Linked DNA regions of Homo sapiens. The protein of the gene in region 3 purifies or fractionates together with the protein of the main gene of each other region. This does not show direct contact. Each region holds a gene or a part of one and is shown on either strand. Other genes may lie near its edges.

Region 1 (7,750 bases), on a different chromosome or scaffold from region 3:
CAGCACTTTGGGAGGCTGAGTTGGGCGGATCACCTGAGGTGAGGAGTTTGAGACCAGCCTGATTAACATGGAGAAACCCTGTTTATATTAAAAATACAAAATTAGCTGGGCATGGTGGCGCATGCCTGTAATCCTAGCTACTCGGGAGGCTGGGGCAGGAGAATCGCTTGAACCCAGGAGAGGGAGGTTGCGGTGAGCCGAGATTGTGCCATTGCGCTCCAGCCTGGACAACAAGAGTGAAACTCCGTCTCAAAACAAAACAAAACAAAACAAAAAAGCCCAGCAGATTCTTATAGAAAAGCTAAATACAGATGAGCAATAATCATAACTCCATTACCCAGAGATAAAATTTCATTACTATTCTGTAAATATTTTTCCAGACTTTTTTTGACATACTCTGTGAAATCACATTTTATATACTTCGTAACTTTCCCTTTTTACTTATGTTCATTATCCATTATTAAAGGCTCTCATGGGCCGGGTGTAGTGGCTCACACCTGTAATCCCAGCACTTTGAGTGCCAAGGCAGGCGGATCACTTGAGGTTGGGAGTTTGAGGCCAGCCTGGCCAACATGGTGAAACCCCATCTCTACTAATAGAAAAATTAGCCAGGTGTGGTGGCAGGTGCCTGTAATCCCAGCTACTTGAGAGGCTGAGGCAGGAGAATCGCTTGAACCCAGGAGGCAGAAGTTGCGGTAAGCCGAGATCACGCCACTGCACTCCAGCCTGGGCGACAGAGTGAGAATCCATCTCCAAAAAAAAAAAAAAGGCTTCATGGTATTAGATTTTTAGATATACATACCATAATTTTATCTCATTGAGGGCAAAGAAAACTATCTACTGCTATCCTCCTGTACTTAATGTGCTCTTTATTCATTCAGCATTATATACTTAATTTATGTAAGGCACTGACATCTCCAAGTCCTGACACACAGTAGCCACTTAAGTATTTGCTGAATGAAAGAAAGTATACTCTTTAAAGAGTTTCGTCTATCTAGTTAGGGGAAAGATATGTAAACAAAGTATCACAAAATAGCAGGTCTAAAGGCCACATAGCATGCGTAAGAGTATGACAGCCTTTGAGTGCGCTGCCTTGAGGAACTGGGGTAAAAAAAAGCTTTACCACTGTTAAAGGAAAAATATGAAGAGGGCAAAAGAATAAAACACACTTTAAGAATTTTATAGGTGTGTCTGGTGGGGGATGGTAGGAAACAGGTAAGAAGAATAAGGGAGCTCTTTTAGGCTTGTGGCTTTAAGTATCATCTCTAAATGGATGACTCCTAAATTGTTATTTTCTGGTCAGACTTCTTTCCTGAGCACCAGATTTTTATATGACATCTCTTCAATATCTAAAAGGCAACATAAATATTAACATATCCACAAGGAGTTCTCAATTCCACATCCCTCGTAAGAACAGTCTTCCCTAGAGTTCCCCCACTTCAATAAATAAAATCACCATTTAACTATGTATTTATATCCCAAATCCTTTGATTTCTTCCTTTTCTTCTTCACTTAATCCATCACCAAAGTCTTGTCAATTATACTGACGTAAAAGGTCTCAAATTCATCAATTTCTTTTCATCTCCACCATTAAATTACTACCTTAGGCGAAGCCACTTTCGTTTTTAAAAAAATTTATTTACTTTAGAGATAGGGTCTCTCTGTCACCCAGGCTGGAGTGCAGTGGTGCCATCATAGCTCACTGCAGCCTCGGACTTTTCGGCTCAAGTAGTCCTTCTGCCTCAGCCTTCGAAGTAACTGGGACCTCAGGCGAACACCACCGCGCCCAGCTAATTTTTTATTTTTTGTAGAGATGGAGTCTCACTTTATTGCCTAGGCTGGAATCGAACTCCTGGCCTCAAGCGATCCTCCAGCCCCAGCCTCCCAAAGCGTTGGGATTACAGGCATGAGCCACTGTGTCTGGCTTGAAGCAACCTTTGTCATACCCTAGTCTCCTTGCTTTCATTTTTTCCCTCCAAAAGTCCTTCACACAGCAACTAGACAACTTTTCACAAACATAGATCATTAAAAGGCCTAAAAAACACTTCCTACAAGATTCTGCATGACCTCGCCCTGGCAAGCATATCTAATTTCATTACCTGTCTTACATTGTCACTTTGATGACCCTTATATTCATTCTCTCATATCTTCAACTCTTTGTACTTTACTGTTCCTACTGCCTGGATTGCTTTTTCCTCAGCTCCTCAGTGACTGGCTTATTCTTATCTTTTAGATCTCAACTCAAACATCTTCTGTTCAGAGAAACCTTCCCTGAGTAACCCTATCTGAAGTGTCCTTCATCATCTCTGGTCTTTCTTTCATAGTATGATTATATAGTGTAATTGTTAACTTATTTGTTCACTTGTTTACTGTGTCTCCCCCATCAGTGTTCCAGGAGAGGTGGGACATTTTTTCTGGTTAACCAAATCCTCAATAATTACCACAATGCCTGGCACACTGTAAGCACACTGTTATTTCTCCAACAAAAAACTCAATGAATGAATCTAGGATACTTCCGAAATTATGACTTAGGCAGAAGTAGAGCAAATGTAAAGAAAAGCCTACACAGGAAACGCAGATGGAAGAGTAACGCGCACATGGATGAGAAGGACGCTTAAACTTGGAGTCAGCTTCGCCAAATCCCGGGCCGCCCCCCACCCCAAGTCCGGAGCTGACAGCTGACAGCTGACAGCATGACGCGACGTCCTGCATTGGTAGGCACGAAGGACGGGACACATCGACCCCATGGGCTGAGGTGACGGAGTCCTGTGCTCACAACCCGGCCGGGGCAGCGGGCAGTAAACCCCTGCTAGACACGCGTGAGAACCTATGTTGGAAAATCGGGGTTCCGGAAGCCTCACATCCAGAGCGGCACGAGGCAACAGACCCGCTGCGTACGCGTTTTCTAAGTGTCCGAAAATGGGCAAAATTCCCTGCGCAAACCCCGGGTGTAAGAACAACCGGAGGAGACTCACATCATCCGACTGCATGGTGTCCGCGGCTCAGCGTGCAACTTCCGGTCGGATCGCGGGCGCAGACATGCTCCTTCCGGGAAACCAGTTCCGGAACGCGCAGCCTCACCTATCTCGAGAAACGCTGAGACTCTCGGTGTTGCGAAGCGTCCCCTGGCAGTCTCGTCGCCGCGCGCGCGCCCCCGCGTCTTCACCACGCTGGCGTCTGCGCGCGCCCGTCCGCAATGCTGGGCTTGTTCATGGGCGCAGCCTGGAGCTGGGAACCCTGTTGGGACCCAGTGCGATCCGCGGGAGGCAGGACGCGCGCAGTCTGCCGAATCCTGGAGCGCGGGGACCGCGGGGGTCGGGCGTGCTTCCCTAGCGCCCTGTTTGTGACCGTTCATGAGGATGGGACCCCTCCCTGTCGGGCCTCCCCTCTGCTGGGAGGAGGCTGGGGAAAGCTGCAGGCGGCGCGGCGGGGCTGGGTCCCCGCTCCTCCGAGTCCCCCGGCCCCAGCTCGCAGCCAGGCCCCGGCCCTGCCCCTCAGACCCTGACTTAGCCACTCCCCACGCCCACGTTGGGTGCGGCACCGGGTCCTGACTTTAGAAACTCAGAACTTGAATTCCTCCTGCTTTGAGAAACCACTGACCAAATGGAAAGAGCATTCCAATAATAATAAACACCTGTGTCTTCCTCATTGCCTATTTGAGACAACAAACAAAGTTGATAAGGGAGGGAAAATACCAAGAAGAAAAGTAGAGGTCTAATAACCCACAAAAACAAATCTGGAAGCCTAACAGCTCTTTTCCGCCAGGGGAAAAAGAAAATCTTTACTAGTTTGTATCGTATTATAGAAGAAAGACTGTCGGCCGGGCCGGGCGCGGTGGCTCTCGCCTGTACCTCAGCACTTTGGGCGGCCTAGGCGGGCGAGTTCCAGACCAGCCTGGCCAACATAGTGAAATCCCGTCTCTACTAAAAATACAAAAATTAGTCGGGCGTGGTAGCAGGTGCCTGTAATCCCAGCTACTTGGGAGGCTGAGGCAGGAGAATCGCTTGAACCCGGGAGGCGGAGGTTGCAGTGAGCCGAGATCATGCTGTGGCCCTCCAGCCTGGGTGACAACCAAAACTACCTCTCAAAAAAAAAAAAAGAAAAAGAAAAAAGAAAAGGAAAGAAAGACTGTCAAGAGGCATTTGAACCAGAGCAACCCCATCTTGAATAGTGGCTGGGTAAAATAAGGCTGAGATCTGCTAGGCTGCATTCCCGAGGGTCAGGCCATCTAAATCACAGGATGAGGTCAGCACAAAATACAGGTCATAAGGATGTTGCTGATAAAACAGATTGCAGTAAAGAAGCCAGTCAAGACCCACAAAACCAAGATGGCAATGAGTTTGACCTCTGGTCGTCCTCACTGCTACACTCCCACTGGCGCCACAAATGCCATGGCAACATCAGGAAATTACTCTATATGGTCTAAAAAGGAGAGGCGTAAGTAATCCGCTCCGTGTTTAGCATATAATCAATAAATAGGCTGGGCTTGGTGGCTCACGCCTGTAATCAGCATTTTGGGAGGCCGAGGCAGGTGGATCACCCGAGGTCAGAAGTTCAAGACCAGACGGGCCAACGTGGTGAAACCCCATCTCTACTAAAAATACAAAACTTAACCAGGCGTGGTGGTGGGCACCTGTAGTCCCCGCTACTTGGGAGGCTGAGGCAGGAGAATCACTTGAATCTGGGAGGCAGAGATTACAGTGAGCTGAGATCAAGCCGCTGCACTTCAGCCTGGGCAACAGAGCAAGAATCAGTCTCAAAAAATACATGAACAAATAGCGATAAAAATGGGCAACCAGCAGCCCTCGGTGCCGCTCTGCCTATGCAGTAGCCATTCTTTCATTCCTTTACTTTCTTAATAAGCTTGCTTTCACTTTACGAAACTTATGGACTCACCTCAAATTCTTTCTTGCTTAAGATCCAAGAACCCTCTCTTGGGTCTGATTGGGGACCACTTTCCAGTAACAAGACCATTTTAATAACAAAAGTGTAAGAAGGACACAGTCTCAGTAAGGATGGCGTGTGTCCGGGAGGCCACCCACAGGTCCTAGAGGCTGCCTGTGGCTTCTTGCCACATGGGATTTCTCAACATAGCTCCTTACTTCATCAAGCCAGCAACGAGTTAAATTCCAGTCTGCTAAAACAGAATCTTAAATAATGTTAATCTTAAATAATCTTAAATAATCTTAAAAAATTATGGCAGTGACTTTCCATAGACTTTGCCTTATGCCATTGGTTAGATCAAGTCACAGGTGCCACCCTCACTGGAGGGGAGGAGAAGATACAAGACATGAACACCAGGGAGTGGGACTCACTGGGGTCACCCTAGGGATACCCTGGATTTGACTGCAACTGAAACACATGAGAAATTTGATATAAAGTTTAAAAGCATTTATCATGATATTATGTAGTATTTAGTGAGGCAGAGCTTGCGGTGAGCCGAGATCCCGCCACTGCACTCCAGCGTGGGTGACAGAGCGAGACTCTGTCTCATTAAAAAAACAAACAAACAAAAAGTAATCTCCAGTTCAAAAGAAGAATGAAAGAAAATTTAGCCGTGTGCGGTGGCTCACACCTGTAATCCCAGCACTTTGGGAGGCCAAGACAGATGGATCAGCAGGTCAGGAGATCGAAACCACCCTGGCCAAGATGGTGAAACCCTGTCTCTACTAAAAATACAAAAATTAGCCGGGCGTGGTGGTGGGTGCCTGTTATCCCAACTCTTCGAGAGGCTGAGGCAGAGAATTGCCTGAACCCACAAGGCAGAGGTTGCAGTGAGCTGAGATCGCACCACTGCACTCCAGCCTGGGTGACAGAGCGCAACTCAGTCTCAAAAAAAAAGAAAAGAAAAGATAAGAAAATGTAATGCTATTTCAACATTCTCTATACATACCCGCATTCTCCTCTGTTACCACAGTGCACTATGTATTCCTCACTAGTGTTGTATTATTGTTATTGGTTTATTATCTCTTAGGCCTTGAGCTTTTCTGTTTTTTTTTTTTCTTTTCTTTTTTTTTTTTTTTTTTTTTTTGAGACAGAGTCTCACTCTGTTGCCCAGGCTGGAGTGTAGTGGTGCGATCTCAGCTCATTGCAACCTCCACCTGCTGGGTTCAAGCGATTCTCTTGCCTCAGCTTCCCAAGCAGCTGGGACTACAGGCGTGTTCCACTATGCCCAGCTAATATTTACATTTTTAGTAGAGACAGGGTTTCACCATGTTGGTCAGGCTGGTCTCAAACTCTTGACCTCAGGTGATCCGCCCACCTTGGCCTTCCAAAGTGCTGGGATTACAGGTGTGAGCGCCCAAGCCAGGCCAACGTTGAGCTTTTCAAGATTAAGGATGATGTCTTTTCATTTCTTTATCCACAATCTCCTGTACAGTTCCTGGTACATAATAAATTCACAATAAATTAGTTGTTAGGTCTCTATTTACTTATTTATTTAGAGACAGGGTCTCCGTTGTCTTACCTTCCAGGCCTCTGCCACCTTCAGCCACTCCCACAGCAACTTTTCCCAGAGCTAACCCTGGGCAGAGTCAGGTTTCCTATGAAGTGTACACACACACACACACACACACACACGAAACCCTGAAGTGTGGAAGGCAGCTTGTTGGAGGATTAAACCTAATAAAGTTGCTCATCTGTAAAGCATGTGTGTTTGCTTGTATACAATCAGAGGAATAAACCATTTAAGGAGAAGAAAAATACATAGTTTTTTGTTGTTGTTTTAGCAGAACCACAGAGCTCCCCAAAAGGAAGAGATGTGCAGGAATGAATTTAGACCCTCTCTCTATAAATCTTGTCAGGCACTGTGGCTCACGCCTGTAATCCCAGCACTTTGGGAGGCTGAGGCAGGTGGACCACCTGAGGTCAGGAGTTTGAGAGCAGCCTGGCCAACATGGCGAAACCCTGTCTCTAGTAAAAGTACAAAAAAAAATAGCTGGGCATGGTGCTGGGCGCCTGTAATCCCAGCTACTTGGGAGGCTGAGGCAGGAGAATTGCCTGAACCAAGGAGGCGGAGCTTGCAGTGAGCCGAGATTGCGCCACTGCACTCCAGCCTGGGCAACAGAGACTCCATCTCATTAAAAAAAAAAAAAAAAAAAAAAAAAAAAAAAAAAAAAAAAAAGAACCTCTCTCTGTAAATGTAATGACTAGCTGGAAGAAATGGGAGTCATTATCAGAGGTCTAGCATCACTTTATTTTGTTTTTTCTTTCTTTTTTTTTCTTTATTAACTTTCAGGGTTCTTTTGGTCTAGCATCTCTTTATTAATGTGATTTTTAGGTTGCCAAAATAATAATTGAGCAGCTAGAACTGCAAAGGAGGAAAGGAAAGAAAATTGTTGGAGCTGGATGATCTTGAGTTCAACACAATGATTGTAAGTCCTATGGAGAGGAGGGGGAGGAAGAGAAGTTGGTTAATGAGTACAAAAAAAACACTTAGATAGAAGGATAAAGTCTGGTATTTGATAACACAGTAGGGAAATTATAGTTAACAATAATTTATTGCATATTTCAAAATAGCTAGAAGAGAAGAATTAGAATGTTTTCAACACAAAGAAAAATGTTTGAAGTGATGGATACCTCTATCACCCTAATTTCATCATTACACATTGTATACATGTATCACACATACCCCCAAAATATATGTAACTATGATATATCAATTTAAAAACACAAATAAATAAAATGTAAACAATACTTTTTTTTTAGAAGTCCTATGGGGAGGGTCATTTCTGCAGCCTCCTGTCTTGCC
Region 2 (7,578 bases), about 230 Mb from region 3:
GAAACCCCATCTCTACCAAAAAAATACAAAAATTAGCTGGGTGTGGTGGTGGGCGCCTGTAATCCCAGCTACTCAGGAGGCTGAGGCAGGAGAATCGCTTGAACCCAGAGGCGGAGGTTGCAGTGAGCAAAAATTGCACTGTTGCTCTCCAGCCTGGGCGACAACAGTGAAACGCCATCTCAAAACAAAAAAAAAAAACAAAAAAAAACGAGGGATAAGGGAAAGAGGCGAACGTGGATGGATCTGACGGCACAGTCCCTAAAAAGGCAGAACATATGTGGTACACACAGCACCCAGGTGGTTGAGTTAATCTTGGACAAGAGGGAAGACACTCTGCTCTAAGAAAGAGGGGAAGAAATATGGCTGTGTACAGATGCATTAAGTTTAAATAGGACAAAAAGTAGCAGTTCCCAACTGTCAGTGATTAACAGCTCCAGAACTGGTACAAAGGTCTTCAGTTGAAATGAGAAAAGGGAAAAGGAAATAAGGGGCTTGAGGAGAGTGGCAAAGAAGAGAGGAATGAAGACTGTTAGCTAGGTACACGTGATGGGATCACTATTTGCATCTTGATTCAAATACACTGTTAAACAACGTTATGCTGGCCGGGCATGGTGGGTCATGCCTGTAATCCTAGCACTTGGGGAGACGGAGGTAGGAGGATGGTTTGAGCCCAGGAGTTCAGGACTAGCCTGGGCAACATAGCAAGACCCTGTTTCTATTTTTTTACTAAAAAAAAAAAAAAAATGCTGACTGGATCACTTGAGTCCAGCAGTTTGCGACCAGCCTGGGCAACATGGCAAAATCCCGTCTCTACAAAACATACAAAAATTAGCTGGGCATGGTGGGGCATGCCTATAGTCTAAGCAACACAGGAGGCTGAGGTGGGCGGCTGGATTGAGTCTGGGAAGCAAAGATTGCAGTGAGCCGCAATCGCACCACTGCACTCCAACCTGGGTGACAGAGCCAGACCTTGTCTCAAAAAAAAAAAAAAAAAGTTAATGAGGGAAATGAATAAATTTAAGAACACCAAACTCGGCCAGGTGTGATGGCTCACGTATGTAATCCCAGCACCTTGGGAGGCGGAGGCAAGTGGATCATGAGGTCAAGAGTTCGAGACCAGACTGGTCAATATGGTGACACCCCGTCTCTACTAAGAATACAAAAATCAGCTGGGTGTGATGGCGCGCCCATAGTCCCAGCTGCTCAGTAGGCTGAGGCAGAAGAATCACTTGAACCCAGGAGGCGGAGGTTGCAGTGAGTCAAGATTGCGCCACTGCACTCCAGCCTTGGCGACAGAGTGAGACTCCAGCTCAAAAAAAAAAAAAAAAATTTTTTTTTTAAAAAGCAAACCAGGCCAGGTGCAGTGGCTCATGCCTATAATCCCTGCACTTTAGGAGGCTGAGGTGGGTGGATCACCTGAGGTCAGGAGTTCAAGACCAACCTGGCCAACATGATGAAACTCTGTCTCTACTAAAAACACAAAAAATTAACCGGGCATGGTGGCACCTGTAATCTCAGCTCCACGGGAGGCCTGAGGCAGGAAAAATCACTTAAACCCGGGAGGTGGAGGTTGCAGTGAGCTGAGATCAGGCCACTGCACTCCAGTCTGGACAAAAAGAGCAAAACTCCGTCTCAAAAAAAAAAAAAGAAACGCAAACCAAATTCTTTTATATACATGCTGAAATATTTATAGATGAAACATAAATTTTCATTTTGCTTCCAAATAATGAGGTGGTAGCTGGGCGAGGTGGCTCACACCTGTAATCTCAACACTTTCGGAGGCCGAGGTGGGCAGATCGCTTGAGGTCAGGAGTTCCAGACCTGCCTGGCCAACATGGTGAAACCCTGTCTCCACTAAAAATACAAAAATTAGCTGGGCATGGTGACGCAGGCCTGTAGTCCCACCTACTCAGGGCCGAGGCAGGAGAATCGCTTGAACCTGGGAAGCGGAGGTTGCAGTGAGCTGAGATCACTGCACTCTACTGCAGCCTGGGCGTGGCATCAAGACTCCATCTCAAAACAAACAAAAACAAATAATGAGGGGGTATATGAGTGGGGTAAAAATACAAAAAGGTTAGCCAAATATTAGTAATTGCTGATGCTGAGTACACGGGGTTTCTTAGCCTTTTCAACTTTTCTATATGTACTGGATTTTCCATAATAAAAGTTTTGAAAGAAAGTAGAAATATGAAATAAAACTGACGAATATTCCAAGTATAGGAATGTTAATTTACCATCTAATTTCTTTAACATCAAATAAGAGAATTTTACCAACCTGTCTGCCAACTTTTTTTCTGCGTTAGTGTGTTTCTTCTTCGCTTTCACTTTTTTGGCAGGTTCTTGCGAAAGTGGTCTTTCAATCTGGGATGTACTTTCTTCCTCCTCATTCCGTTTCGTTTTTTTGATGGTTTGCTTTTTAAAAGTTTGAAGTTATATTTGAGACCCCATACTTCTAGAATTCTGACCCTAAGCCATAATTCAGTCTTTCTAAATGAGAATCTCTTCTCTCTCACTGGTATGTAAGAGTCATGAAAGGTTACTTAAAATGAATCCTGTCTGCCCCCTTTAGAAATCACGCTTCACGCGGTAGGTAAGAAGATTGCTTTGTATGTAAGTGGTTCTAACGAGCTATTCGGGAAGAAAGCCCAGTGACTTACTTTAGGCACAGGCACGTACACGGGTTGAATCTGGGGCTCCAGAGAACTGAAGAGGGACGCCAGCCGACCGGTGCCACCTCTGGAATGGTGTTCGCCGCGAAATAAGCTACTGGCGACCTGTCCAAGCCTGTAGTCTTCCGGCGGACTCCCGCGAACGCCGTCGTCAGGATTCTCTCTAGAAATGGACGACAGAAACTCAGCCACGCCACGCACCACCGCTTCGCCAGCACGAGGGAACGTACAACATCCCTCCCCAGGTACTCGTGCCGCGCGCCACTCACCCCTCCTGGACACTTCTCTTTCTCTTCCGTTTGCTCATCCCTTCCAAGGCCATTCTTACTCCAAAGACTCCCAGACTGCAGCTGCGCGCCAGCTCGCACTTCCGGGTTCCGGGCACTTCCGCTCTCTGGCCACGCCCCCTCCCCTCCGGCAGTCGGCCGCCGGGCGGCGGCGAAGGGAGGCGCTGGGTGAGGGAGCAGGTTTGTCGCCGTCGGTTGGTGGTCCTCGCCGTTTCAGAAAAGCCTCATTTTGGGAGTGAAGGACGTCTTCTGGGAGTGGTTGAAGCCTGCAGTGTGAAGAATCAGCCAGGCTAGGAGCGGGGTGTCCACCCAAGCCGAGAGAGAAACACGTAGAATACTGACTTGTTGAAAAGGAGGGAGGGAGGTTTGGCAAGAAATGCGGTTAGGGGTGAACGCAGTGGGGTGTTTACAATTTGCTAATCGCTGTGAAGAGTACAAAGGAATTCTTTGTACTCTTCTTGCAACTTGTCTGAAACATGACATTATTCCAAAATAAAAACCACAACTCTAACGAGTCACGTCAACATACAATTCGAAAGATTGTAATGCGGACCTGCTATTCTACCTGGAAAAGTAGATACTTGGCATTCAAAACGCTTCAAGGTGTTCTCAGCCCGTCTTCCCAGACTCATCTCCCTCCAGCCCCTGACATTCTAGCCTGCTTTCTCCACTGCCTCTACAGTTGTTATTCCTGTCCCCTCTGTTGTAATTGCCCTCCTCTTTCCCCTTCTGCAAAATAATGTCCATCCTTCAAGGCCTACCTCAGATACTGTCTAACTTAGTATTTCTTTGCAGCCAGGTGCGGTGGCTCGCCTGTAATCCTAACACATTTGGAGGCCGAAGTGGGAGGATTGCGTGAGGACTAGGAGTTTGAACCAGCCTGGTCGATCTAGCGAGACTTATTCTCTACAGAAAAGAAATTAGACGGGCACCTTCGCGCTCGGCGCCTGTAGTCCCAGCACTTTGAGAGGCTCGGGCAAGAGGATCCCTTGAGCCCTGGAAGGTCGAGGCTGCAGTAAGCTGTGATCGCATCACTACACTCCAGCCTAAGCGGCAGACCCTGGCTCAAAAAAAAAAAAAAAAAAATTCTTTGCTATTTACAATAGGGATATTTTCCCAAGCCCCCATGGTACTTACTATAATCATTTTTGGTCTGCTTTAGTGTTAGTTACAGTCTCTTTAGATGTAAAGGCAAGACAGTAAGGATTATGTTTTATTCATCATGTATGCTGTGTCTCTATTAGCTGTACATAGTGAATATTTGTTAAATTGACTCTCAGGGTAATAAAAGATTACTAGTTAAATCATCCAATAGTTTGAGTGGCAAAATAGGATTTGACTTTGTTCTTATTTTCTTTCAGACAAGGTGTTGCTCTGTCACCCAGACTGGAGTGTAGTGGTGAGATCACGGCGCACTGCAGCCTTGACTTCCTGGGCTCAAGCCATCCTCCCACCACGGAGTAGCTGGAACTGCAAGCAGCAGCACCATGCCCAGCTAATTTTTTTTTTTTTTTTGGAGACAGAGTCTCGCTCTGTCGCCCAGGCTGGACTGCAGTGGCGCGATCTCAGCTCACTGCAACCTCCGCCTCCCGGGTTCAAGTGAGTCTCCTGCCTCAGCCTCCCAAGTAGCTGGGATTACAGGTGCATGCCACCATGCCCAGCTAATTTTTGTATTTTTTTAGTAGAGACCGGGTTTCACCATGTTAGCCAGGCTGGTCTCGAACCCCTGACCTTGTGATCCGCCCACCTCAGCCTCCCAAAGTGCTGGGAGTACAGGTGTGAGCCACCGCGCCTGGCCTTTTTTTTTTTTTTTTTTTTTAAATAGAGATTGGGGTTTCACTGTGTTTCCCAGGCCGGTCTTGAACTCCTGAGCTTGAGCAGTCCTCCTGCCTTGGCCTCCCAAAGGGTTGGAATTACAGGCGTGAGCCACTGCATCCAGCCAGGATTTGACTTTGAGTCTTTTGGGGACAGCCTAAGCTTTTTGAAAGCTACTCAACCAAGTTGACTGGGAATATATGTGACTTTTACTTCCCCCTTCAGAGAAATTTATGAAAAAAATCCACAATATTCAACTGCTCGGCCCTGGGTTTTGATTACTGGGCCCCTTATTTTGGTTTCCCATAATCTTGATCTTCTGGTATTTCACAAAGATGAAGAAAGCTTATCCATACATGCATGCGATACAACTCAAAAATCTGTTCTATCCAGTCCAGTGAAGAAATTATATTCTATATTTCTAGAATTATAGAATTCTATTCTGTGTATTTTTTGAGACGGAGTTTCACTCTTGTTGCCCAGGCTGGAGTGCAGTGGCACGATCTTGGCTCATTGCAACCTCCGCCTCCCAGGTTCAAGCGATTCTCCTGCCTCAGCCTCCCGAGTAGTTGGGATTACAGGCATGCACCACCATGCCTGGCTAATTTTATATTTTTAATAGAGACAGGGTTTCTCCATGTTGGTCGGGCTGGTCTCGAACTCCTGACCTCAGGTGATCCGCTCGCCTTGACCTCCCAACGTGCTGGGATTACAGGTATGACCCACTGTGCCCAGCTAGGTAGCAGATACTTATAGAAGAAAACAGACTGCGAAAGCAGCTGTGGTTGCAGATAGTTTTAAAATTATCTTCATTGCTGTTCAGTGCTGTTTTTAACCATTTAGAGATCACTTACTGCTTTGAGAGTTTTTTAAAATATGAGGACATGGTGGGACAAGGTGGCTCACGCCTATAATCCCAGCACTTTGGGAGACCAAGACGGAAGGAATGCAAGCCCAGGAGTTTCAGATCAGCGACTGCGCCATTTGCACTCCAGCCTGGGCAACAAGAGCGAAACTCCGTCTCAAAAAAACAAAAGGAGGCCGGGTGCGGTGGCTTACGCCTGTAATCCCAGCGCTTTGGGAGGCCGAGGTGGGTGGATCATCTGAGGTCAGAAGTTTGAGATCAGCCTGGCCAACATGGTGAAACCCCATCTCTACTAAAAATACAAAAATTAGCTAGGCATGGTGGCGGGCGCCTGTAATCCCAGCTAGTCGGGAGGCTGATGCAGGAGAACCACTTGAACCCGGGAGGCAGAGGTTGCAGTGAGCCAAGATGGCGCCATTATACTCCAGCCTGGGCGACAGAGCGAGATTCTGTCTAAAACAAAACAAAACAAACAAAAAAAAGAAATTAACAAGACCCCACTCTAAAGTTTTTTCAGTAGGAAAAAAAACGTTTTGGAGAACACCGTTAAGAAACGTATCATCTTGGGTGGGCGCGGTGGCTCATGCCTGTAATCCCAACACTTTGTGAGGTCAAGGCGGGCAGATTACGAGGTCAGGAGATCGAGACCATCCTGACTAACACGGTGAAACACCCCTCTCTACTAAAAATACAAAAAATTAGCTGGGTGCAGTGGCACGTGCCTGTAGTCCCAGCTACTCGGGAGGCTGAAGTAGGAGGATCACTTGAACCTGGGAGGCAGAAGTTGCAGTGAGCCAAGATTGCACCACTGCACTCCAGCCTGGGGCAACAGAGTGAGACTCCGTCTCAAAAAAAGAAAAAAAAGAAAAGAAAAACATACCATCTTAATATGTCAATTGTAAACTAACTTAGTAAAGTCTAGTTTAGGTGACCAGAAGTAGACATAGGTCAATTCTACTAATTCAATAAAATCCTCAAACCCTCTTAAGAAGGTAGGACGTAGAACAAGAAGGCAGGCGAGACAGAGAGGCACAAAGTCATAAATCTCGACTCCACCAAAATTTGGAATAATTCCCCTATTCAGCACTGTTTCTATAACATACTCAGTATGTGATATTAAGAGCTCCTCAAAAAACAGGGTTTCATGATTAGGTGGGATTGAAAACAGTAGGGTAAAGGAAGTTATTAGGCAGGTATCTCTTCACAGGCCTTCTCAAAGTTTTTAATATGCAAACACTGTGATTCTCTAAGAATGTGCTATACATAGATTTTCCAAAATATATTTGGTTATAAATTCCCAGAGCATTTCCAGGGACCAGTATTCTAGGAATTCATTTTGGGAAGCACCGTTCCACAGATTTAAAATATCATCCCTTAAACTAATTTTTGTGAAAATAAAGGGCCACCACAAAGATGCTTTAAAAAATATGTATTTAAGCTTTCTAGGCCTTAAAAAAGTTGATTTCCTTTCTCGTTTTTGTTTTTGTTTTTGTTTTTTTTTGAGACGGAGTTTCAATCTTGTTTCCCAGGCTGGAGTGCAATCTTGGCTCACTGCAACCTCCGCCTCCCAGGTTCAAGCGATTCTCCTGCCTCAGCCTCCCTAGTAGCTGGGATTACAGGCATGCGCCACCATGACCGGCTAATTTTGCATTTTTAGTAGAGACAGGGTTTCACCATGTTGGTCAGGCTGGTTTCGAACTCCTGACCTCAGGTGATCCACCCACCTCAACCTCCCAAAGTGCTGGGATTACAGGCATTAAGCCACCACGCCCGGCCTCTCTCTGTATTAAAGAAAGGTTTTCTTTTTTTTGAGGCGGAGTCTCGCTCTGTTGCCCAGGCTGGAGTGCAGTGGCACGATCTCGGCTTACTGCAAGCTCCGCCCCCCAGGTTCATGCCATTCTCCTGCCTCAACCTCTCGAGTAGCTGGGACTACAGGCGCCCA
Region 3 (7,021 bases):
GAACCAGAGAGATCCAGGGTACATGCTGGGGCACCAGAGGACAGAAGCAGATTATGGGGGGCCCAAGGGTGGAGGCCCCAGCAAGACACCCCACTCAGCAGGGGTGGCTGCCAGACAGCTGAGCTCAGGTCCAGATGGGAAAACGCCCTGGTACTGATGAACCTCTGGGAGGACACTGCCCTTCTCTAGCCTGGGCCAAAAGTATGGGCAGGCGACTGGCTTCCTGTCCAGGCACCGGGGAAGGGCAGGCACGGCCTACAGCTGAGGGCTTTGTTTTAGCTTTTAGGGTTTGCTTTTTCCGGAGAGGAGAGGCCTGCATCCCTGCGTGAGAGGGGCCTACAGGGTGCGGCTGCAGTGAACCAGGGCAGTGCACAAGTGAAGAAACAGACACTGCAAGAGAGTAAGAAAGCACGTAGCCAAGGAGATTGGACAAGGGAAACAGACACAAAGCATGCCTGGAGCTGGGCAGCAGAGCTGGAGGCCCACAGACACAGGGGCCAGGCCAAGGGCTGGGCAATCAGAGACCACTGCTGGCTGCCATGGGAGTGAACATGGCTTCCTAAAGATGTTCAGCATCCCTGCCTCAGTGGAAGGGGAATCAGAACGTGCCTGGGGCTTCCATACCTTCTGGACCCAGCAACCTGGGGACCCAGCCCCAAGGACAGCTGTGACACGACTCTGGGCCTTCATGAGGCTGAGAACTCATTAGATAAACAGGGTGGAGATCGTGAATTCCTAAATTTACAGCGGGGTGGGGCCTAACCCACCCACTGAAAGTTGAAACTTCGGACTCCAATCTTTCCCTACCTGAGTGGCATGTGCACGTGCAAAGATGCATACACACAGGTACACACAGGCGCACACATGCACAGGCACACACGTAGACGCACGTACATGCACACAGGTGCACACACGCACAGGCACACACAAGCAGACGTGCATGCATGCACCCAAGTGTACAGGTACACGCACAGGTACACACGCACAGTACACACATGCAGATGCAAATGCATGCACACAAGTGCACACAGACACGTGTGTATGCACATAGGTGCACACAGGTACATAGATGCACGCAGACACACATGCATGCACACAGATGCACACATGCAAAGGTTCATGCATGCACAGGTAGACACATGCAGACGCAAATGCATGCACACAGGTGCACACACGCACAGGTACACACATGCAGACAGGTGCACACAGGTACACACGCATGTGCATGCATACAGGTACACACAGGTACACACTGGTATACAAAGACACATGCACAGGTGCACACACGCAAAGGTACACGCAAAGGTACACACATGCATACACACAGGTGTACACACGCACAGATGCACACACCTGCAGGCACACAGGCATTCATGGATACACGTGCATACACACATACAGATGCACACATGAACTGATATGCACACACACACAGATTTACAGACCCATGCACCCAGATGGTGCACACACACGCATGCATGCACAGACAAACGCACCCACCCAGATGTACACACATCCCCCATACAAATGCATACACATGCACACAACTGTCAGGGCAGGGCACTGTTCAGTGTACAGTTCAGCAATCAGACTTGGGTTTTGGCCCATCTCGCCTCCTGCCTACTCCAGTCTTGGGCAAGCACCTACAGGGTCAGGTCCCGGCATCCTCAAGCACAGCCCTAGCAGCAGCCGCCTTCATCCCCAGTGGTCCCACGTTCCCCAACACTGCCCCCAGCACACGGAGGAGCACTGTCCTCGTGACACCCGTGACAAGGAGGCGGCCAGGGCTCCGGGAAGTCGCCGGACAACTCAGCACAGACGCCCGGAGCAGCAGATGCTCCCTACAGGAGCAGGCAGAGGTGCCACACGCCCACCACAGCCTCACTCACCTCCAGGATGAAAGGCAGCACCGGGATGAAGGCCCCCGAGCTCCCCGAGAGCAGCGTCAGGGCACGGATGCAGTGCATTCGCAGCGGGTAGAAGCGGGCAGTGGGGATGAGCCTGGGGGTGGGAAGGCCGAGTGAGCAGAGGCCCCGGCTCTGGCAGCCCCTGCCCCTCCCCCTGCTGTCTTGGACCTCCTCCCCCACTCACCGACATCAGACCCCTAAAGCAGGACAAGGCACGTCTGAACCCCAGGGACCTGCACCCCTTGCCCAGCTATGGGGCTGCAGGTACCTTACCCAGCTTTCAGCTTTATTTCAACACGGTGGCAGGGGTCATCTGTTCCTGCCTGCTCTCCTCCCTGTTCCCGCCTTTCCTACTTCTTCCCTTGGACTTCCCACCTCCCTTCCCAGCCTTGAGTTTCTAAGGCTCAGCCAGACAGATGCCCCCTCCTGGCCAAAGAGGCCACAGTACTGCTCCCACCTTTTCCTGCTGCAGCCCCTACCGTGCCTGGACCCTCCTAAGCGCTCACACCCAAAATGCAGTTCACTGCATCAGATGTGCTCCACCCAAGAACCCCACGTAATGAACCAAACTCACTGCAAACTGCACACAAGCCCCCAGAACACACGCTGGGTGGCACCCGAGGCGGCTAAACCGCTGTTGGAGGAGCTCATGTCACAGGTGCCCACCAGCCCTAGCTCTCCAGAATCCAGAGCATCTCCCCGTAGCAGGTACAGGGACCCCAGCCCTTCCTCAGGGACGGCCAGGACACAGACTCAGGCCCCAAGGCCCTGAACGCCAGAGGCACCGCCCACACAGTCCCAGCAAATTTGCTTCTCCTGACCCTCCCGCACAACCCTGCCCACCCCACAACTCACTTGATACAGCCAATGATGACTTGGGCAAGGGGGTAGACCAAGGGCTGGAGGGCTTCGCTGGGGCCCGCAGTGCTCAGGACCCGGCACCACAGGAAGAGGCAGTGCACATACTGCCAGTTGTACACAGACTGGTATGTTTCCTGGTCAGAGAGAACCACGTCAGCTACTGGCCAGGCTGACAAGTCAGGCTGATGCACGTTCCTCCTGGGCCGGCACAGGAATCATTTCCTCATCTTGCACACGGGGTCTCAACCCATCCACCCTTCCCCCACCTGCAAGGACCGACTGCACCAGGGTGCTGGGCTGTCTCCAGACAGGGGCTTCGGGGAGGCCCCAGGCCCTGCCTTGGGTCGGGCACCTGGGCTGCCCCACCCCATGCCCAGCATGAGCCTGGAAGGGCCCCACCACACACCTTCTTGCGAGTGGTCATGGCGTTGCGCAGGTGTATGGCGAGCTGGCGGATGTAGAGGAAGGCGTGCTGGTAGGCCACACCCGGCTCCAGGGCCAGCAGCTCCGTCAAGGTCCACTGCATGAAACTGATGAAGGGGAGGGCACCAGGCGAGGTGAACTTGCAGTTCCTCACATACGTGATGTACATTTGCTGCGGAGAGACCCGGGTCAGAGCCACCTGGGATCAGGGCCATGCACCTCCACCGCCCACTCCAGGGCCCCTGTGAACACCTGGGCCTTTCCCTCAGAGCTGGGCCTCGAGGAAGAGCCGTAGCCCCTTGCACAGCCCCCACCCCCAAGTGCCCACCAGCCTCAGGCCTGGGAGAAGCTGGGGCAGAAGCTCCTGCTGCACACTGGGCCCCTCTGGGGGCTGAGGGTCCCCACATGCAGGCCACCCATGGCTTGGGGACGGGCAGTAGGACTGTACCCTGGCCATGGCCTCAGGTCCCAACACCCAGTGTCCTCCTCCAGCCAGAGAGGCCCTCCCCTGGGGAAGCTGTGTGAAGCAGGGTCCAGGTGGGGCCCTGAGAAGGCCGAGGGCTCTCTTCCCTGCCCACCACCCCCAGGTGCTCTGTGAGACATTCGTGATCCAAGGGCCCAGGTCTGCTCAGAGCTGCAGTGAGGGTCCAGTGAGGGGCACCAACCACAAAGGCAGCCCGCCCTGCCCTTAGGCCGAGATTTCCAATGCAGATGCTGAGGGACACAGACGCAGGGCCCACCACTACCTTGAGGACGGGGCCAAGGAAAGTGTCCTTCTTGTGCCGGCAGACTCTGCTGAGGACCAGGAAAGCCAGCACCCGCAGAGACTCTTCCCCAGTGCTCCATACGATCACCATTCTCTGCAGAAGGTCAGACGTCACTGGTGGCCCCCCAGCCTCCTCAGCAGGGATGCCCCAGGGCCAGCACAGCCCTCCCCAGCCAGGCAAAGGCTCCCATGGCCACCAGCTCTTCCCAAAGCACCTCGGGGGAGCCGTGAGTTAGGTGCTCAGTTACAGAAGTGAACAGAACAGGTGTGTTGCTCCTTGTGAGAAGAGGACCACAAAAGTTTACCACGTCAGACACGCCGACGTATGTGAGATCACACCGGGAAGAAGATACCTCACCGTGGCTTTGCTCACGGACTGAGCCGCGCTGCCCGGGCAGGCAGGGACTGCCTGAGACAGAAACCCCAGGTGGGGGTGGGGGCCAGGTGCTTCTGTGGCCTCTCTAGCCAAGCGGAGCCAGTGGAGTGTGGGCACCACCTGTGCCCTGGCCAGGAGTGGGATGTGGTGGGGGTAGCCGTGTGGCCCCCCGACCCCATGACAGACACAGGGAGGGGACTGGGCCACGAACCTTGAGCAGCATGCGGCACTGCTTGGGGAAGGTCAGGAAGCAGGGCACCAGCACGCTGATGTGCCGCAGCACGGCCGCCAACACCGTCGTCTCCGACAGACAGGACACCAGCTGGGGGCAGGAGGGGACAGTGAAGCCCCAAACCCATGTATTCTGGGATACAAAAAAGGACCGACCACCAGATACAGCCAGGCCCCCGTGCCCTCCCCACCAGAATAGCACCTGTATGGCCGAGCCCAGGTAAGCCTTGATGTCCACACGAAGCTTCCCCCAGAGCGGGCTGCTGGACGGCTGCAGCATCCTGCAGAGAGACCACCCACCCCTGGCTGGGAGGCCCCACGGCTCGGACGCGAGGCTGCTCAGCATGTTGGCGCGTGCCCTGGCCAGCATAGCCTCTACGACTCTGCAGAGACCCCCCGTCTCTCCACTCAAAAAAGCTCAGGGCCCCTTACAGCTGGACAGACACAGGGGCTTAGGAGGACCCTCTCAAGTGCATTAGCTCCTCCTTCAGTGGCCTTGAACTCCTGTCTGCCCTGCCCAGGGTTGGCCACCGCCCTAAGAGTCCCCGGAAGTCCCAGCCTCCAACTCCCTCTCAGACATAAACCTTTTCTAGGTCCCCTTGATCACATCCCCACCGTGAGACCACACGAGGTCCCTAAGCCCAGCAGCTGGTACTCAGCACCTCTGGGGTCGCCCAGGCACCACCAACTGCCGCAGACTGGTTTCCTTTGGCCCACATTTGCTGCACAAAGAAAAGAAAATCAGAGGGCAGGTGTGGAGACTCATGCCAGTACTCACTGCACTTTGGGAGGCCAAGGCAGGAGGATCAAACTCCAAGCCCAGGAGTTTGAGACCAGCCTGAACAACACAGTGAGACCCCGTCTCTACAAAAATATACAAAATATTATCCAGGCCTGGTGGCGGAGTCCCAGTTACTTGGGAGGCTAAGGTGAGAGAATCACTTGAATCCAGAAGGTACGTGTCGCAGTGAGCTATGATCACTGCATTCCAGCCTGGGCGACAGAGCAAGATCCTATCTCGTAAGGAAAAAAAAAAACCAAAAACCAAACAAACAAAACAAAACAAAACAAAACATTTACCAGAGCCCACGCAGTAGGCGCTCACTAAAATCTGCTGAAGCATGGGAAGGACAAAGGGCAGGGCCCCAGAAAGGCCCCCCGTCCTCGACCCTCCTCACACCTGTGCTGACACTGGCTGCTGGGCACCTGCAGCTGCCCACCCAGACCCAGGAGGCAGCTCTGCTCCCCACGGCCTGACTCCCTCCGGTACAGCTGCTGCCTCGACAGGGGTCCCTGACCTGGTGGCTCAGGCTGCAGTGCGTGCTGCCTCCCAATCGCTGCCTGTCCCTCCACCCCCATCTGCCAGCTTCCTTGTCCCCTTCGGACAGCACTGCCTCCATGTGGACATGGCTCTGTTCTATCCGTCCAGCCCCGACCACTACCACCAGCAACAGTGCCCCTGTCTCCTGAGCCGCTGTCGGCGAGACCTCTCCTGTGGGTCTCCTTTCTTCCTTTGAAGGTGTCCTGGGGCAGTTCCAACTCTAGGCCTCCACTGCCTCAAGGTCACATGGCTGCACAGCCCCGGAACCCCAACGTGCTCCATGCTCTACCAAATGCTTGGCCGTGCGTCTCTCTTCTCTGAAAACCTTCCACGGCCTTCTCTGCCCAATCTTTCTCTAAAGGGGAAGTTGAGGCCCTCAGGTTCTCAGCATTGATGAGGCCCCTGTCTACAGACACACACAGCTCCAGGAAACAGGCCAGTCATAGTGCAGAGATCAAGGAGTATGGACAGGACTTACAAGTTCTTACAAAGGGAAATAGAGCAAGAACCCTAACCTGGGAAAATCTGAGAGCAAAGGCAGCTGCACACGCCACACCTTCTGAGACTCTGAGCAGACAACTTCCCTTTTCAGGAAGGAAAGAAGGTGGGGCCGCTCCAACTGGCCCCAAGTGCCCAGCCTCTCCCAACGGTCCCTCGTGCCCCGCTGCCTTCTCAGGGTCCCCAAGAAGACGCTGGCTCTGTTGCCATGTCTCTGTCCTAGCCACAAGGCCTCTGGCTTCTCCTGTGTGTGGTCCCGACCCACCTTCCACCCTACCCCCCTTCACCCCCTCCCCTCTTACCTGCTGCTATCCTTTGCCACCTTTCCAAACAGCAGCTTCTGGAGACAGCCAATGAGGTCTCTGATGCAGAAGGTAACCAGAGCATTGAATGCTGCAACGAAAAGGCCTGGATGTACTCACGGGACAGAGAACGCAACAGACAGCCTGGATGCCAGGCTCCCCCCAAGCTCACCAGCACTGTCCGTGACCTGGAATTTGTTGGCCTCAGCACTTTCCTGGTCCCCTCGGGTGGTGGCCACAGCTGCTCGGAACGCCTGTACCACTTCATGGAACAGCTTTGGAGTGAGGCGTTGCTGAAGGAGCAAGAGTACCAGGGGCGTCAGGGGAGCTGAGACT

The links. Proteins that work in one complex are often made in the same cells at the same time.
Region 1: the proteins of NOC2L (region 3) and MAK16 purify together in Homo sapiens (affinity purification with mass spectrometry; 2 studies listed by BioGRID and IntAct, with this or other methods). This does not show direct contact.
Region 2: the proteins of NOC2L (region 3) and RBM34 purify together in Homo sapiens (affinity purification with mass spectrometry; 2 studies listed by BioGRID and IntAct, with this or other methods). This does not show direct contact.

What each region holds. Positions count from the first base shown.
Region 1 is NC_000008.11:33,480,447-33,488,196, reverse strand, and holds the start of MAK16 (protein MAK16 homolog), read right to left. Parts: upstream 3,016-7,750; 5' UTR 2,991-3,015; coding exon 2,976-2,990; intron 1-2,975.
Region 2 is NC_000001.11:235,158,236-235,165,813, forward strand, and holds the start of RBM34 (RNA-binding protein 34), read right to left. Parts: upstream 3,016-7,578; 5' UTR 2,992-3,015; coding exon 2,939-2,991; intron 2,833-2,938; coding exon 2,658-2,832; exon of another isoform or gene 2,413-2,657; coding exon 2,276-2,412; intron 2,267-2,275; exon of another isoform or gene 1-2,266.
Region 3 is NC_000001.11:949,238-956,258, forward strand, and holds part of NOC2L (nucleolar complex protein 2 homolog), read right to left. Parts: intron 6,979-7,021; coding exon 6,858-6,978; intron 6,777-6,857; coding exon 6,686-6,776; intron 4,846-6,685; coding exon 4,767-4,845; intron 4,656-4,766; coding exon 4,545-4,655; intron 4,052-4,544; coding exon 3,938-4,051; intron 3,364-3,937; coding exon 3,175-3,363; intron 2,903-3,174; coding exon 2,763-2,902; intron 2,002-2,762; coding exon 1,890-2,001; intron 1-1,889.